2 separate regions of the Homo sapiens genome follow, and region 2 is linked to region 1. The links come from fine-mapping of genetic effects on gene expression. A gene starts in region 1. The other region holds a variant in brackets. All regions are shown on one strand. Distances are from middle to middle.

What was found. PIP is the estimated chance that this variant, and not a neighbour inherited with it, causes the effect. A credible set is the group of variants that fine-mapping cannot tell apart.
Region 2: its variant is the best candidate, but not a certain one, in a credible set for the expression of NRTN in whole blood (TOPMed, PIP 0.85).

What each region holds. Positions count from the first base shown.
Region 1 is chr19:5,802,631-5,807,136 of GRCh38, reverse strand. It overlaps NRTN (neurturin), which reads right to left and starts at 2,070. Exons shown (of 3, transcript NM_004558.5): 1 at 1,686-2,070. RefSeq lists an enhancer at 2,885-3,179 and a silencer at 2,880-3,179.
Region 2 is chr19:5,768,229-5,772,228 of GRCh38, reverse strand. CATSPERD (catsper channel auxiliary subunit delta) reads right to left here. Exons shown (of 22, transcript NM_152784.4): 18 at 3,987-4,000; 19 at 1,157-1,285. Among named protein-coding and RNA genes, the nearest start is that of PRR22, 15 kb to the left of the region's middle. The variant C/T (reference allele first, on the strand shown) is at 2,428.

The sequences.
Region 1 (4,506 bases):
TTTTCCTTTCCCACTTAGAAAACTCCTACTCATCCTTCACAGCCCCACCTCTGAGGCCCTTCCTCCAGGAAGTCTTCTCTGACATTCCTACCCTGAGGTAGAGCCCTCCATCCCCACTCTGAGCTTCCCCAGCCCTGTGTCCCTGGGTCTAAATCTGCCTCCCTTGAAGGACAGCACCCAACAACCCTGACACCAGTCAACCACGCGGTTGCCATCGACACACATTTGTCGAAACAATCTTTTGATTGTGTTGTGCCCGGCTGCAAACTTTTTGAGTCCCTTCTGCCCAGCTCTTGAAAGCTGTCTCCTCTGTTCGCTCCCTGAAAACTGGGACCTGAAACGCCGAGGGGCCAGTGCTGATGGTGGAGTTTCAGATGCAGTACCCAGCTGAAGAGGGGAATGTTTTATTTTCTTCCCTGCACCCCTGGAAGAAGCTTTCTGTAGCTCCCTGGGGGTGGAGTCGGTGCCGGAGCTATGAACCTCGGGAGTCTTAGGATGAAGGGAGGAGGGAGGGGTGTCCAAAGGGCCCCAAGGCAAGAAGCTGGGGGTGGGAGAAGCTGGCAGTGTGGGTGGGATCCTGCCCCTCACTGACATCCTCTGAGGCTGGTCACACCCCACCCAGGCTTCCTCAGCCCGGGGCACTCAGAGACAGACAAAGAGGGCCATGGAACAGGGACAAGGATGTAGAGAACAGGGAAAGGGCAGGGGAGACAGGCAAGAGGGAGGAAAGTCAGGGGTCCGGCCTCCTGCACCCCCCTGCTTTAAGCCCCTGGCCCCACTCCCCAAATCTGGACCAATGACGAGCCCTGCAGGTAATCACAGGCCTGTGGGCAGGTCGGATGCGTTCTGGGGAGGGGACAGTGGTGGCATTCACCCTGGGAGAGCCATTTCTCTCTCCAGCACACCCCCCTCCCCACTAATCTGTCTGCAGCCCCCTTGGGCCTAATAACTCCTAATCCACAAACCACCTCCTGGGACAATTCGGGGCTATCCCCGTGCAGGAGACACCTTTTATAAAAAGCAGGAAAGGCAGGCACAGCCTCCCGCCACTTCACATCCAGGCTTTGCCCTTAAGGGACCCCCACCCCCAACACCAAAGGGTTTCACGCCCTCTGGTGGCTGAACGGGCTGCTCCAGGAGCCGAGAGGGCCCGGCCCTCACCGGAGGACACCGTGTCCCCGGCGGCGGCGGCGGCGAGCAGGGAACGCGCCACTGACAGATGTTTACTTCTGTGCGCAGCTGGACCGCGACGGCAGCCCCCCGCCCGGGCTCTGCAGGATCCGGAAGCCCCCCAACGGCCCCTTGGAGACCACATGGCTAAAGGGCTGTCTGGGTCTCGCCCTCCTAGAGGCTAAGGGGATTCTGGGGAGGGCACCGTGCGTTCCTCAGATGCACACTTGGAGGTTTTAGGAGACAGGAGTGCGCCCGCCCCGTCGGACAGGGACACCGCGGCTGGATTCGGGCTTGGAGAGCCGCTTAGGATCTGGCTTCACGCCCCCGCCCCTCCCCACGCGCTGACCTGTCGTCCCTCTGACCCCACCCTCATACACCCGCTGGTTCTGCTGCAGGAGGGAATCCCCTGGTCTACTCGGAGTCCTCAGCACCCTCCATGCCCCGTCCATGGGGCAGGTCGTCCCCGTCGTACCCTGCTGCCCCCCCACCTGCCCCGCCTGCCCCTTGCTTACCTGCTGTGGGCGCCGGACTACCCGTCAGTGGCGGCCGCGCGGCCCCAGCCCCTGCCCCAGCCGCCGCGACCGCCATCCGGGCCGCCTGGGCCCGCGGTGCCCGGGGGGGGCCCGGGCCGGAGGGGGCGGCCGCGGGCGGGGTGCGGCGCGGGCCGGCCCATGGGGCCCCCCGGGCTCGCTTAGCCGCGGGCTGCGGCCATCCCGGGCCGGCGGGGGCTGGGGCTGGGGGTGGGTGCCCTGGACGGCCGGCGGCTCAGAGGGCGCGGGGCGCGGGGGCGCACGGACGGCGCAGGCGGCCTCGGCGCGCAGCACGGGGCTCCGGGGCGGCGGCGAGAGGGACCTGGGCACTCGGAGCGGCTTCAGGGCGCGCTCTCCCGCCGCCTCCGCCCGTCCCGCCGCGGACGGCTCGGCCGGCGCGGGGCCGGGGGCGGGGCCGGGGGCGGGGCTGGGGGCGGTGGCTCGGGTTTCCCCGGCCCTCCCCGCCCTCCCCGCCCCCGCCGGAGGGGACCGGAGGAGCGCAGGTGGCAGAGGCGCGGGAACCAACCACAGAGCCCCCTTTAGACGGCTTTCTCCCCCGGCCCCGGGGACTCCGACGGCTCCCCTTCGGGAGAGCCGGGACCCCAAGACACCCCCTCCGAAGGTGTCTAAGAGCCGCAGCTGTCCCGACGCCAGTGCCTGTGGCCCTTGGCGCCCCCCACATTCTATCGAGGATCTGACCTTTCTGCCAGACCTCCCAAACCTGTCCCAGGTCCCCTTCCAGAGAACAAGGCGCCAAGAAGTCCCTTCACTAAAGAAGCCCCTCAAGGGAAGCCCCCAGAGCGGCGCCCCCCTCAAACTAGCTGTTTCCCATCCTCACTCCGGGGACCCCTGACGGCTCCTCTTGCCTAAATCCGGAGCTCCAAGACGCTCCCCCGACCCCTTCTGGCGAACTAAGACCCATGGCCCACACCCCAACAGCTGTGGCCCCCGCATACAGCTCCCCCCACCCCACTGAGGATTGGGGTGTCCCCCTCCAATCTCGTCCCAGGTTCTCCTTCCCCAGAAGCTGAAGAAGCCCCCTCCCAAGAAAGCTCTTCCAGGGAACTGAGACGCAAAGTCTTCCCCTCGGACGGATGACGACACCCGCTGTCCTCAGCGCCCCCCATCAAGCAGTAAGTCCCCCAGTGCGGCCTCAGAGCCCTGCAGGGGATTTCTCGCTCCTAGCTCCCGCCGGCGCCCCCTCCTGGCACCAAGGCTCACGGGCAGGGGAGCCCAAACCCACCCGGGCTCCTCCCCGACGGCTCCGCGCTCCCACAGCGCTCCCTGGCGGCGCCGGGCTAACTCGGGGACGGGACTGGGATGGCTGAGCTGGGCTGGGACTGCTGCGGCCCCGCCCCCGCCCCGCGGGGTGACCGAAAAACTCCCGCCCTGCAGACTCCTCCCCGCGCCGCCTGCGTTCTTGGAGCCCCCGTGCTCTGGTTTCTCGCTCCCGCCGCTGAGGTTCTTGGGGCCTCCTCCTCACTCCGGCCCTGGCTGCCTGCATGTTTCTGATTCCAGCAGCCTGGGGGTTCGCATGCAGATTAGGCCTTCCTAGAAGATCCCTAACCCCAACATATGCACGTCCCCACAAAGCGCCTGTAAAACTTGCGGGGCCGCGCAGTGCGCGCGGTGATGGGGACACTCACGCAGCCTCGCCTCCTGCTGCACGCGGGCTGATGCACGCGGTGCTGTGCACGTGCGCGGGGTGCGTGCTGGAATGTGAGTTGTGGGTGGGGGGACGAGAGAACGGACCTATGTCAGAGAAGTGGCAGCCTGTTCCCAGATCTAGGATGGAAGTTAACAGGGATCTGTGTTCTGTGTGGCCTTGGGCCTTCCCCCCCGTGCCTCAGTTTCCCCACTTGTAACAGGGTATTACTAGTAGATCTTCACTGTGTTCTAGTAAGGACTGAATGAGTGTGAACAAGCTTGTATAAGTAATGAGTAAATGTGAATAAGTAAGTGAGTAAGCCTGGCAAGTTGGGGGTGATGTCCCAATGTCTGCCATTACTAGTGTTCCCAAATGTTCACTCCCAGAAACCCACTCCCAGTGACACACATACCCTAACCTCAAACACACACCCTCAAACCTTTATTCCCGGTGGGGTCACCCCCCCTGCCATCTCTCTTTTTTTTTTTTTTTTTTTTGAGACGGAGTCTTGCTCTGTTGCCCAGGCTGGAGTGCAATGGCATAATCTCGGCTCACTGCAACCTTCGCCTCCTGGGTTCATGTGATTCTCCTGCCTCAGCTTCCCAAGTAGCTGGGACTACAGGCGCGCGCCACCACGCCCAGTTTAGTAGAGAAGGGGTTTCACCATGTTGGTCAGGATGGTCTCGATCTCTTAACCTCGTGATCCGCCCGCTTCGGCCTCCCGAAGTGCTGGGATTAGAGGCGTGAGCCACCGCGCCCGGCCTATCTTTCCTTCTCACACAAACCTAGACGCCCTAGTGAGCACAGACACTCCTGCACTGTCACACCCCGCCCCACCCCCGGGTCCTCACACGCAGACACACGCTGACACAACCCCTCCACGAGTATCTCACAAGGTCACGCGTACACTCTCCTGCGGGGGTCCTTCCTTACCCCACGCCCTTCTGAATGCACTCATGCCCACAGACCCGGGGTTCACTCAGCCCGACACACACACACACACACACACACACACACACTCTCAGCAGATCCTTACACACCCCCACGCTGCCTGGCACTGGTTAGTACACACACACACACCCACACACACACACAGACACACACATACACCCCGGGCCCCGTCTGGAAGGCACAGCCACCCCTGCACACACACAG
Region 2 (4,000 bases), 35 kb after region 1:
AAAAAAAAAAAAAATTAACCGGGCATTGTGGTATGCAACTGCAGTCCCAGCTACTTGGGAGGCTGAGGCAGGAGGACCGCTTGAGCCTGGGAGGTTAAGGCTGCAATGAACTGTGTTCATGCCACTGGACTCCAGCCTGGGCAACAGAGCAAGACGCCAACACAAAAAAAAAAAAAGAAAAAAGGAAACAGAGAGAGAGAAAGAAAGGAAGGAAATGAAGGAAGGAAGGGAGGGGAGGAAAGGGAGGAAAAGAAAAGAAAAAAAGAAAAAAGAAAAGAAAAAGAAAAGCTATATGAGGTCATAGGATGTAGGGTGGGCCCTGATCTGATAAGACTGGTGTCCTTATAAGAACAGGAAGATGGCCAGGTATGGTGGCTCACGCCTGTTATCCCAGCACTCTGGAAAGCTGAGGCAGGTGGATCACGAAGTCAGGAGTTCGAGACCAGCCTGACCAACATGGTAAAACCCCATCTCTACTAAAAATACAAAAACTAGCCAGGCATGGTGGCACGCGCCTGTAATCCCAGATACTCGGGAGGCTGAGGCAGGAGAATCGCTTGAACCCTGGAGGTGGAGGTTGCAGTAAGCCAAGATCATGTCATTGCACTCCAGCCTGGGTGACAGAGTGGAAAAAAAAAAAAAAAAGAACAGGAAGACAGCAGGAGTGCACAGGCATAAAGAAAAGCCCATCGGCCGGGCGCAGTGGCTCATGCCTGTAATTCCAACACTTTGAGAGGCCAAGGCAGGCGGATCATCTGAGGTCAGGAGTTCAAGACCAGCCTGCCCAACATGGTGAAACCAAATCTCTGCTAATTAGCTGGGTGTGGTGGTGGGCACCTGTGGTCCCAGCTACCTGGGAGGCTGAGGTGGGAGGATCGCTTGAGCCCAAGGGACAGAGGCTGCAGTGAGCTGAGATCATGCCACTGCACTCCATCCTAGGCGACAGAGCAAGACCCTGTCTCAAAAAAAGAAAAGGTGTTCCAGGGAGAGGGCCCTGGGGGCCAGTGGGGCTGGGGCAGGAGCACGGTGGGAAACAGTGACCATCATCATTTTGAGGGATCTAGGGGAGCCTGGAGGGCCAGGCTGGTACCCCAGGGCCAGGGAGCATGAGGCCCTGCCACCGTCCCCACCCTGCAGCACCCCCCTGGGGTCTTACAGCTCCACCACGGGCTTCCATAGGGTGTCATAGTAGACGAGGAGAGGACAGCCCAGCTGCTGGTAGGAGTAAAACACGTGCAGGTCCTCGGAGGACTGCTGCCCCTGGAAGCCGGGGTCGTAGAATTCCCTTCAAGACACCAAGAAGCAGAGATGGGGAGTCTGTGAGTTCCTGCCCAGTCTGCCAACCCTTCACAGCCGCAGTTTCTTTTTTGCAAATGGGGATCGTCCATGAGAGTGGCAGGAGGTGGCATCTGAGGTGGGCGATTGAGAGCCATGGACCAGATGATATTGGAACTTCTGTTCTAGTTAATTTTTTGGCTGGAGCATAGTAATGCAGTCATGACTCACTGCAACCTCCACCTCCTGGGCCCAAGCAATCCTCTCACCTCAGCCTCCCGAGTGGCTGGGATTACAGGCACGCACCACCACGCATGGTTAATATTTTAAATTTTTGTAGAGATGAGGTCTTGCTGTGTTGCCCAGGCTGGTCTCAAACTCCTGGCCTCAAGTGATTCCCTCACCTCAGCCTCCCAAAGTGCTGGGATTACAGGTATAAGCCACCAAGCCCAGCAAAATTTCTGCTCCTTAAATTAGATCAGTGCAAAAGTAATCGAGGTTTTTGCCTTTTTTTTTTTTTTTTGAGACGGAGTTTCATTCTTGTTGCCCAGGCTGGAGCACAGTGGTGCAATCTCAGCTCACTGCAACCTCTCTCTCCCGGGTTCAAGTGATTCTCTTGCCTCAGCCTCCTGAGAAGCTGGGAATACAAGTGCCCACCACCACGCCCGGCTAATTTTTTGTGTTTTTAGTAGAGATGTGGGTTTCATCATGTTGGCTGGGCTGGTCTTGAACTCCTGACTTCAGGTGATCCACCCACTTCAGCCTCCCAAAGTGCAGGGATTACAGGGGTGACCCACTGCGCCCGGCCGGTTTTTGCCATTACTTTCAATGGCAAAAACCGTAATTACTTTTTTTTTTTTTTTTTGAGACAGAGTCTCGCTCTGTTGCCCAGGCTGGAGTGCAGTGGCGTGATCTCAGCTCACTGCAACCTCCGCCTCCCGGGTTGAAGAAATTCTCCCACCTCAGCCTCCTGAGTAGCTGGGACTACAGGCATGTGCCACCACGCCTGGCTAATTTTTGTATTTTTAGTAGAGACGGGATTTCACCATGTTGGCCAGACTGCTCTCAAACTCCTGACCTCAAGTGATCCACCTGTCTCGGCCTCCCAAAGTGCTGGGATTACAGGCATGAGCCACCCTGCCCGGCCAAAAC[C/T]GTAATTACTTTTGCACCAACTAATAAATTACCCAGTTTAAGGCATTTTGCAATACAGCCCACATAGACTAAGATGACACTCCCCTCTGTGTCCTCCGCAGGTTCCAAAGTCACTGCCCCTTAGCAGCCCAGAAGCACTAGTTTAGGCCTCAGCTCTAAATGGGTAACTGACTCTTGACTTGCATTTGAGGGCTCAGGTCTTACAAATCACATGGAAGTGTGCACTCGCGTGGCAAGGAGCTCCCTCATGCTGGGTGCAATGAGGGGTCTTCGTATGGTTTGGATATTTGTCCCTTCCAAAGCTCCTGCTGAAACTGGATCCCTAGTGTTGGAGTGGGAGCCTAGTCAGAGGTGTTTAGGCCACAACGGCAGAGCTATGAATGGCTTGGAGCCATATTTATGGTACTGAGTGGGTTTTCATTCTCAGCTTCCATGAGAACTGCTTGTTTAAGAGCCTGGCACCTCCTCCCCCCATCCCACCACCCTCTTTTTTTTTTTTTTTTTTTTTGTCTCTAGGTTGCCCAGGCTGGTCTCAAACTCCTGGCCTCAAGCAATCCTCCTGCCTCAGCCTTCCAAAGTGTTGGGATTACAGGTGTGAGCCACTGCACCCAGCCTCCTCCCTCCTCTCTCTCTCTCTCTTTTTTTTTTGAGACAGAGTCTTGCTCTGTTGCCCAGTCTGGAGTGCAGTGGCTCAATCTTGGCTCACTGCAACCTCTGCCTCCCAGTTTCAAGCAACTCTCCTGCCTCAGCCTCCCGAGTAGCTGGCATTACAGGTGCCCACCACCATGCCTGGCTAATTTTCGTATTTTTAGTAGAGATGGGGTTTTGCCATGTTGGCCAGGCTGGTCTCGAACTCCTGAGCTCAAGTGATCCGCCTACCTCGGCAGGGATTACAGGCGTGAGCCACCGGGCCCGGCCATAACTCTTCTTTATAAATCACCCAGCCTCAGGTAGTCTTTTAAAGCAGCACAAATTGACTGAGGCCCAGACTCTCGTATGGGCGTGGCAGTACATGCTCACTGAGCCGGACAGCATGTGGGACCAGCCAGCTGAGGGAAGAGGATCACTTGAGCCCAGGAGGTCGAGGCTGTGGTGAGCTATGATCGCATCGCTGCACTCCAGCCTGGGCCACAGGGCCAGACCCTATCTCTTAAAAAATAATAATAGGCCGGGCGCGGTGGCTCATGCCTGTAATCCCAGCACTTTGGGAGGCTGAGGTGGGCGGATCACGAGATCAGGAGATTGAGACCAACCTGGCTAACACAGTGAAACCTCATCTCTACTAAAAATAAAACAAATTAGCCGTGCCTGGTGGCGGGAACCTGTAGTCCCAACTACTCAGGAGGCTGAGGCGGGAGAATGGTGTGAACCCGGGAGGTGGAGCTTGCAGTGAGCCGAGATCGCGCCACTGCACTCCAGCCTGGGCGACAGGCGAGACTCCATCTCAATAATAATAATAAATAAATAAATAAATAAATAAAATTCCTAATTTGCTCTTGGCTTTTGCAGGCCCAATGGTCGCCTTGGGTGTCAGGTGTTGCGGGGGGACGCTGGCTTACTTCTCGATGATGAA